2 separate regions of the Homo sapiens genome follow, and region 2 is linked to region 1. The links come from fine-mapping of genetic effects on gene expression. A gene starts in region 1. The other region holds a variant in brackets. All regions are shown on one strand. Distances are between the middles of the regions.

Evidence for each region. PIP is the estimated chance that this variant, and not a neighbour inherited with it, causes the effect.
Region 2: its variant is the best candidate, but not a certain one, in a credible set for the expression of FRMPD4 in fibroblasts (GTEx, PIP 0.85).

Annotation. Positions count from the first base shown.
Region 1 is chrX:12,136,340-12,140,733 of GRCh38, forward strand. FRMPD4 (FERM and PDZ domain containing 4) reads left to right here and starts at 2,134. Exons shown (of 17, transcript NM_001368397.1): 1 at 2,134-2,673. The coding sequence starts at 2,633.
Region 2 is chrX:12,385,328-12,389,721 of GRCh38, forward strand. All of the region lies in intron 1 of FRMPD4 (FERM and PDZ domain containing 4), which reads left to right. Among named protein-coding and RNA genes, the nearest start is that of FRMPD4-AS1, 12 kb to the left of the region's middle. The variant A/C (reference allele first, on the strand shown) is at 1,891.

The DNA.
Region 1 (4,394 bases):
AGAAATCCTAAAGATAAAAATAAATTATATAGTGTGCTAGTGGGTGATAAATGCTATGGAAACAAGAAAAAAGAATAAAACAGTTAATAGGGACTCGGAGTCCAGGGTGTGAGAACCTTTTGCAATTTTAAATTGGCTTTCTAGAGGGGGCATTTTGGAAGTGGTATTGGTGCATACATTTGACAGGGTGGAGAAGCCGGCCATGCAGATATCCCAGGAAAGAGCATTCCAGGCTGAGGGAACAACCATTGCAAAGAGCCTAAGGTGGGAAGATTACCTGTAGAGTTTGAAGGATAGCAAGAAGTCCAGAATTGCTGGAGCCCAGTGAGTGTATGTGTGTGAGAGAGGAGGGGCTCGGGGTAGGGGATGAGGAGGGACAGAGAAAAACGGGAGAGGGAAGTGGGCAGTAATAGTTGAGGTAAGAAAGATCAAAGGATACGGGATCTAGGGTCCTGTTGGCCCTTGCAGGAGCGCAACTTTAGCTTGACGGACAATGGGGAGCTTTTACATATTTTAGATCAGACAAGTAGCCTTATGTGATCTACGTTAAAACACACACACACACACACACACACACACACACACATACACACACACAAAACATCTTTTTGTCTGGTATGTTGAGAATAGATTATGGCATAAAAATAAAAGATTTCTAAATATATTGCCTTATATGAAAAGGTTGCGATGAGACTCCAATGCAAAAAAAAGCTTTAAAAATTATAAAGCACAGTGCAGACCCAAACTATAATTATTTTACAAACAATAGAGTTCAAAAGCCAAGGTCCCTCTCGCCCCTTCCGATCCTTGAGTAGTAACTGCGTTCATGCAATTAAACTAGCCTGTTTAATAGAAGCTGCAGGAAAACTGATAACTATGTATTCAAAAACATGTAATTTTATGCCTGAGTTTTAAGTCATTTAGATTTTGCAGATTGCTATTTATTTTATGTTCAGTTTTTGAAATAAATGCTTAAAAAAAACGCTTTAGTACTAGGCTTGAATACTGAAGACTTTAAATATAACAACAGACCAGGAGAGGAGCAGAAGTGTGGGAACTTTAAACCTATTTCTTTCTTAATCCCCTCGGAGAGCTAGACTGGAACACTGGCTGGATCTTCCAACATTTCTGGGGGTGCTCTCTGTTCTTTGCGGTGGCCCTGCCGCCAGGTGAACGCTGCCGGTGGGAGAGCACACACTTAGTGCGGCCAGCTGACCTTCACAGTCTGGGGGGAAATTTTAAAGGATTGTGGAGAAGAGGCCTTGAGACTTCAAGAGGAAGAAGAAAAAGGGGCCCAATGAAGCCTGAGCCTCCCAGGAGGTAGAACTGAGTTAATGAACAGGGCTGATTATCCAAGGTAATTATGTAAAAGAGAAGGCTAGGAGGAGTTCTAGATGGCTGCAACTTGGAGTTTACTCTGCCTAAGGTGAGTGTTTATGTTTCTGTGTTTTTGCTTCTCCGGCAAGGTTTTGTTTTGTTTTGTTTTTTTCTTCCCTGTTCCCTTCACCCAAGGCTCAGTGTGCAAAAGCAGCTCGCTCTGCGTGGCAGACCCCATTCTAATCCTTCTCTTTCCTTAGATTCTGAGCCCGGTTAGAATTAGCCTCCGCATCACGGGCTCCTGGGACCCTCCGCTCTATGCTCCTCGAGGAGGGAGCAGCTGTGTTCATCCCCCTACCCGCAAATGCCTCCGGTTCTTATTTGGCAGACACTCCCGCGGTGCTGCTGTCCAAAGACACACCTTCCCAGCCAGCCCAGTGGTCACGTCTCGCCCCAGCGATTCGGGAGAAGCAGTGGGAACTCTGAGCTCCCCGAATCGAGCCCGCTGCGCCTGGCATCTCCCTTCCCTTCCCCTTGACAAACGACCCAACCTCAATCATCCCTGCTCCTTCCGAACGCTAGTTTTGTTTACGGAGCAAACCGAGGCTTTGAGCAACCTGCGGTTGCACGGCTCTCCTTCGGCTTGGGGAGGGAGGGGTAGCGTTCACAGTTCTCCAGTGTGCCATAGACTGTTAGACCAGATCCTTCAGATCTAGAGGCACACGCAGTGGGTGACAGGAGAGTGCCCCCTCCCCCCGGGCGGGTGGGGGTGGGGAGAGGAGCAGGGACTCGGCTTGGAGAAGGAGGCAGGGAGGCAGCTGCAGTGCTGCGAGGGGTGCGTGCGCGTGTGCCCAGCTCGCCTGCCGTCTCCCGGCTCCGTCTGCGCTCCTCGGTGCGTGGGGCACGAGGGTCCGAGGGCCGGGAAGCCAGAGCAGCGCCTCTCGCCCAGGCCTCGCTTTCTCTGGACGCCCGGCAGTCCCCGGGGCTAGAGCGCACGGGGCGGGGCGCGAGACCCGGGCCGCGCTCCCCGCCCCCGCCTCTTGCGCCCTGCCTGGCTCCCTCTCCATTGAGTTTTCCTGCCTCGGGTGCCTATCAATGGTCCTGCTCGGGGATGCACACGCAGCTCGCGGCCGGAGGGGGGTAGCAGCCGCCGCCTCCAGGTGCAGGTTCTCTCCGGCCGCCGCCGCCACCCGCTGTCGCCGCGACTCGAGCCCCGGGCGCACTGAGGTCTTGGCCATGGGGCTGCGGAGGCTGCTGTTGCTGGCGTGAGAAGGGGCGACGGAGTTGTCGCGCTCGGGGGTCCCCAGCTGCCTGCATGGATGTCTTCAGCTTTGTGAAGATTGCAAAGCTTTCGAGGTAGGGGCTGCGCGGGTTCCGTTTGCACCCAGGGCCGCTGCCGCGGGCAACTTGGTGCCTTATTTTTCGGGAGGCTGGGTAGAGGCAAAAGCTGGAAAGCGCGACGGGGCTTAAGACAAACGAAGTGGCCGGGGGCTTCCACGTTCAACTTATTTCTCACTGGCTGCTGAGGCTTGTGTAGCGGCGGGTGTAGACCACACACAGAGAGGTACATACATGCCCTCACCAACACACCGACATTCACGACAGTTTGTTTTCCCTAAGGAAAAGCCCCAGCGGTGTTTGGGGTCCCATGTATAATTCAGGGCTAAGAGAAGATGGTTGTAATTGCTACTGCTAGGGAAACCCAGAAGTGCTTGGAGCTTGGGTGCCTGCCTTCCAAGCTGCAAAGACCAAAAGTGCCGCCTTCCCCCAACTCCTAAATTACACCTCCACACCTCCACAAAGTCAGCTCCTAGATTGACCAGGTGCTCCCAACGGTAACCTAGATGGCGAAGTCATGTAGATAGAAGAGAAAGACTTTCAGCCTTTTTTTTTTTGGGGGGGGGGTAACTATATTCTTAAGCCTCGAAAGATTTAGAAATTTTCTTCTAAGTGGCCATGTTGTTAAAACAGTAGCTAAAACTAAATCATCGATTCAGACATTTTTGGGTAGTACTGATAAAAGAGGAACATTTCCACGCTTGGGCCGCCTAGGTGTTGCCTGGCCAGAGCACTCCTCCAGGTCTTCTGCCCTGCTTATGCTTCCAAAGTCTTCGTTTGAGCCACAGAGTAAGGTTTGTGCTGCTTGCTATGTGGCATTAATTGGGAAGAGCCCAATAGGAGTGGTCTTAGAAAACCATGCCCAACCTTCTCTGCCCCTGGAGCTCTTTATAGCAGCTACCACCAGGACGTAGGAGGTAGACAGTTGGGTTTTTCCAGGATGTAGCTTAAAAACTTACTTGCAATATGGACAGAATAATCCCAGGTTTTCCTTCAGTCCTGAGTGTCAGAGTGAGATGTGTTGATTGCATCAGGCAGGGATGAGCAGCTTCCAATAGTCAGAGGTAGAAACGTATGTTGACTTTGCTTTATTAAATTACATTAGACCACTTCAGAAAGGTTCTGTTTGGATGTTGCCATTCTCTCCGACATCTACAGGTCTTTGTTCTGCCTGCCCATCTCCACCTTCCCTTTCTACTAACATGGGTCAGTCTTCATGCCACTAGCAGATTTCCCCAGGCAGAAAGGCCCAGTGCAGCTTACTCTAAGTAGACTGGAGATACGCAGTTGATGGGTAAATACCTGTGTCTTAGAGCAGCTCAGGAAGAGGTGTTGTCCTGCAGATCAGAAGACTGATGTGTTAAGCAGTGGATGATTGTGGTGTGGCCAATTGTTTGCTTTCAAGCTGATCTCATAGAGGGCCATTGCTTCACACCACTATTCTATTAACTTCCTGCATGCTTCTGCCTAGGGCTAGTTTCTAAACAGCTGTCAAATATTGAACCATGGTTGGGAAGCAGCTGTGTGCAAGTTTAGAGGCTAAGTGGTACCCTCCGTGTGATGGACAGAGATACTGCTAAAGGGAAAGGGAAGTTCAACCAATAGTATAGTTCAAAGTAACCAGGATACTTTTTGGTGGCCTCAGATGCTAAAAACAGTTTAACAAAACATCTAGAGCCTCGATTTAGTCCTTAAACTTAGGAACTTTGGAGAGGACAGTGTCATGTGTCAGTGAAAAG
Region 2 (4,394 bases), 250 kb after region 1:
GCTAGGCAGTTTAAAGAGCACACTAAGAAATTCTGTGTTTCCCATCGTGTCTATGCAACGGAACCTTAGAGCAGCTTGGTGTAGAGAGGGCAAGTCCCCTTCTGACCTGCTGCCTGTGATCCCACACTGCTGAGAATATAGATCTTATTCAGTAATACCAAGGGACAAGGTCAGTCCTTCAGTTACTCTGTATAATTGTCACAAGGTCAGTAATTAAGTGGACTTGAATTTATAATAAAATCATTCCCGAGTGGAAACGCCAATCAACAAAAGTTTACCCGTTACACATTGAGTCTTAAAGAGGGAACTGAACTACACCAAAAATTGCATATTTCACAAATATGTTTAAAACAAGAGGCTTTGGTGAATTTTAAGGAAAGTATATTAACATGTAATTAAAAACAATGAAAAAGGAGAATCAAAGAGTTTCTAAGAATAATTTAGATTGTCACTGAGCAAAATGGTAGATAAGAACCTGCACCTTAACCCACAAATAAAGCAGTCCAAAGAGAAAGAGGGAACCTTGTTTGAAAAAGCTGTTTGGAGGAGTTTAAGATAGTGCTTTGTTTTTCTCACAGTAAGTTTCCTCCTAATTGCAATCCAAGGCCTTTAAAATCATTCCTTTGACAGTCCTATCACACATTTGGAATGTGCACAAATAAGCAGAACTCTGCTTTTCAGGTGAGCTTTGAGATTACCCATCTCTTGCTTCTCTTCATTGAACTTGAAGATTTTCAAGTTTCCCAGGAGCAAAACCTTACTTAGGAAATCACATAAAGAACACCCCTATCTGCCTCATAATTGGAAACAAATCCCAGCCCTTCAGAGTGAAACCAGGTGTTCAGAGTTAAATCTCATAACATCTGGAAGGAGCTCAGTGCAGCTGAAATTTCCACCAAGTGAAATGACCCTCTCAAATGATGAGGTACAAAGCAACAACCTATTTCTGTGGAAAATTACATGATAGAGAAAAGCTTGGGAGAGTTGGCACCCAAATACAGACTAAATGGTTTATGCAGTGGGTGAACAGAGGAAAATTTATGAGCAGCCAAGGACGAAAGTATGTGGATGGATTGATTAGGAGGGACTTTTTCTAATTTTTGTGGTTCAGCCTTGAATTTGATAGATGAGATCCTCAAAGCATTCTGGGGTCTATCTAACCCTCTCAGAGTTTGTACGTCATAGCTGACTGCTTGTTGAATTGGTACACTCTTTACCTATTCAGTTTGCTTCCGGGAAATAAAAGAACCAGAATGAATTATCTGCTCCTCTGCTTGTTTTACCGTAGCCGACTTATCATCATCTTTGCATGAAAATGCCTTAGCAGTTCTTGTGTGTTTACCTAATATGTCACTGGCTACAAAGGGGCTGGCAGTGGATGATAGAAAAAAGAGGTGCAGCTTGAAGGACAAAGGCTTTTCATCAAGAGTAACAAGTGGCGATGATGATAAATATATAAAATGGCAAGAATTTGTCATCAGAAAAGGAGATTATTTTGTTATAAAGAGATCTAGCTAGCCTTATGGGGCGGGGTGGGGGCTAGGCAGAGAGGCTGACCCTAAAGAATCATTACGGACAATTTGTTTTTTGTTCTCATCCATATCAGAAGAAAAGCATTTGCTGAACAGTTAGTAGTTATACTAGAAAGAAATCAAAGTATGCAATTCTTGGCAAACAAAACATAAAGAGAAGCTTTTTTAAATTTTATTGAAGGCTATTTTTCTTTACTGTATTTAGTTTTAACTTTGTGTTCATTGGTTGCTCTATTCTTTTAACTACCGAGTTAAGAAATCTTAAAACAATAGGGAAGCCATCCTTTCTTTGTCTCTGAGTGAGATGAATGTCTAATGTTTAATGATATTAGGAAGCTTTTTAGTAACAAAATTTGCA[A/C]ATGAAACCTTCATAAATATTTTTCACTGTTTTGGATCCCACAAACATTCTCAGGGCCACAGATATGTTAAACTTGCGTTAACACCATTTCACGCAGACCTGGTAATTAAAGGCTGTTTATTTCTATTTTACGGCATTAAACCTAAGCCTCTAAGAAATTCTAAGACAGATTAAATAATGTCAAAGCAACTGCCTGAAAGATGCTCAATGGAACACTAGTCTTATTGATTATAGAGTGAAATGAATCTCACTCAGAGGCAGAAGAAAAGTTATGTCGATGAACAAAGCTTTTTAATAAGGTGTCACGATTGAAGAGAGAGGTTGAAATCAGGTCAATAAGAAATGCATAATTCAAATGAATTCATCGTGGATCAACATCTTGCCGGAAATCCCTCTTGTAGATGAGATTTAATAAAAATTATGTTAATAATGCAACTTCTTAAATTGATATATGGGTATCATGTCAGGGACTGCTGTTTTTTGTTTGTTTTTTTTTTTCCTGTAAGTCTCTGAGGACTAGATGAGCAGGATGGTATATGATATAAGACAAATTCTGAAATCCTAAAATACTTTCTACCCCTTCTCTCCCCTTCCATTCTTTCTCAGGCATACAATAGATTTGTCTCGGTTGTGGTCTTAGCACATCTGAGAGCCAGCGTCCATGTCTGTGAGTGGTGTAATTGGCCATTGACCACCTCAGTTACCACTGTGGCAGCTCTTCCTTTGCTAGCCTTACCTCCAGGATATGGGAATCAATCTTAAAAAAAAAAAAAAAGTAGTATAGTTATATAGTAAAATACTGTACAGTGATGCCAAGAATGAACTACTGTCATACAGTATGGTGACAGAAGTCAGAATAATGAAAACTTCCGGGGAGAACTGGGTATTCACTGGGAAGGCATAAGAGGGAAACTTCTGGGTGCTGGATATGTTCTATATCTTGGCAAAAGTGTTAGTTACAAGGGTCTATACATATGTAAAAACTCACTGAGCTATACACTTATGATTTATGTACTTCATTGTATATACTAGATTTTAATTCAAAAGTTTTAAAAAATCAATTCAAATTTGTAGATGCAAGATATATTCTTAACAAAACTAAAAATAGGCTGGGTGCGGTGGCTCACGCCTGTAATCCCAGCACTTTGGGAGGCCAAAGCGGGCAGATCACGAGGTCAGGAGTTCGAGACCAGCCTGGCCAATATGGTGAAACCCTGTCTCTACTAAAAATACAAAAATTAGCTGGGCATGGTGGCGTGCACCTGTAGTCCCAGCTACTCGGGGAGCTGAGGCAGGAAAATTGCTTGAACCCAGGAGGTGGAGGTTGCAGTGAGCCAAGATCATGCCACTGCACTCCAGCCTGGGTGACAGTGAGACTCCATCTCAAAAAATTAAAAAAAAAAAAACTAAATAAAAATAAAATATCTATATGATATAGCAATCCCACCCCCACTTCTTTTGGTTATTTACCCAAAAGATCTTAAATCACTTTGTTGAAGAGATGCCTGCACTCCCATGTTCACTGCAGCACTATTCACAATAGCCAAGTTATGGAATCAACCTATGTGTCCATCAACGGATGAATGGATAAAGAAAATGTGATATATATATATATATATATATATATATATATACACACAATGGAGTACTATTCAGCCTTTAAAAAAGAAGAAAACCATGTCATTTTTGACAACATGGATGGAATGGGAGAACACTATGCTAAGTGAAATAAGCCAGGTACAGCAAGACAAATACCACATGTTGTCACTTACGTGTGGAATCTAAAACAATTGAATTCATGGAAGCAGAGTAGAATGGTGATTACAGGGGCTGAGGGGTGGGAGGAACAGGGAGATGTTAGTCAAAGGGTACAAATCTCAGACACGAGGAATAAGTTATTTTGTGAGATCTACTGCACAGTGTGGTGGATATAGCTAATAATAGTGTACTGTACATTTCAAAATTGCTGAGAGTGGCTGGGCGCGGTGGATCACGCCTGTAATCCCAGCACTTTGGGAGGCTGAGGTGGGCGGATCACCTCAGGTCAGGAGCTTGAGACCAGCCTGGCCAACATGGGGAAACCCTGTCTCTACTACAAATACGAAAAATTAGCCAGGCGTGATGGTGCATACCTGCGATCACAGCTACTTGGGAGGCTGTGGCAGGAGAATCACTTGAACCTGGGAGGTGGAAATTGCAGTGAGCTGAGATCTCACCACTGCACTCCAGCCTGGGTGACAGAAAGAGATCCATCTCAAAAAAAAAAACAAAACCAAACAACAACAACAACAACAAAATTTGCTGAGAGTAAATTTCAAATATTCAAATATTTAAGGTAATGGATATGTTAATTAGCTTGATTTAATTATTCCACATTGTATTCATAAATATAACACGTTATATCCCATAAATATATACAATTATAAATGGTCAATTTATGATTAAAAATGAAAAAGATACATTGTAGTGAATGTATAGAAGAGTTTACTTTTCAAACAAGAAAG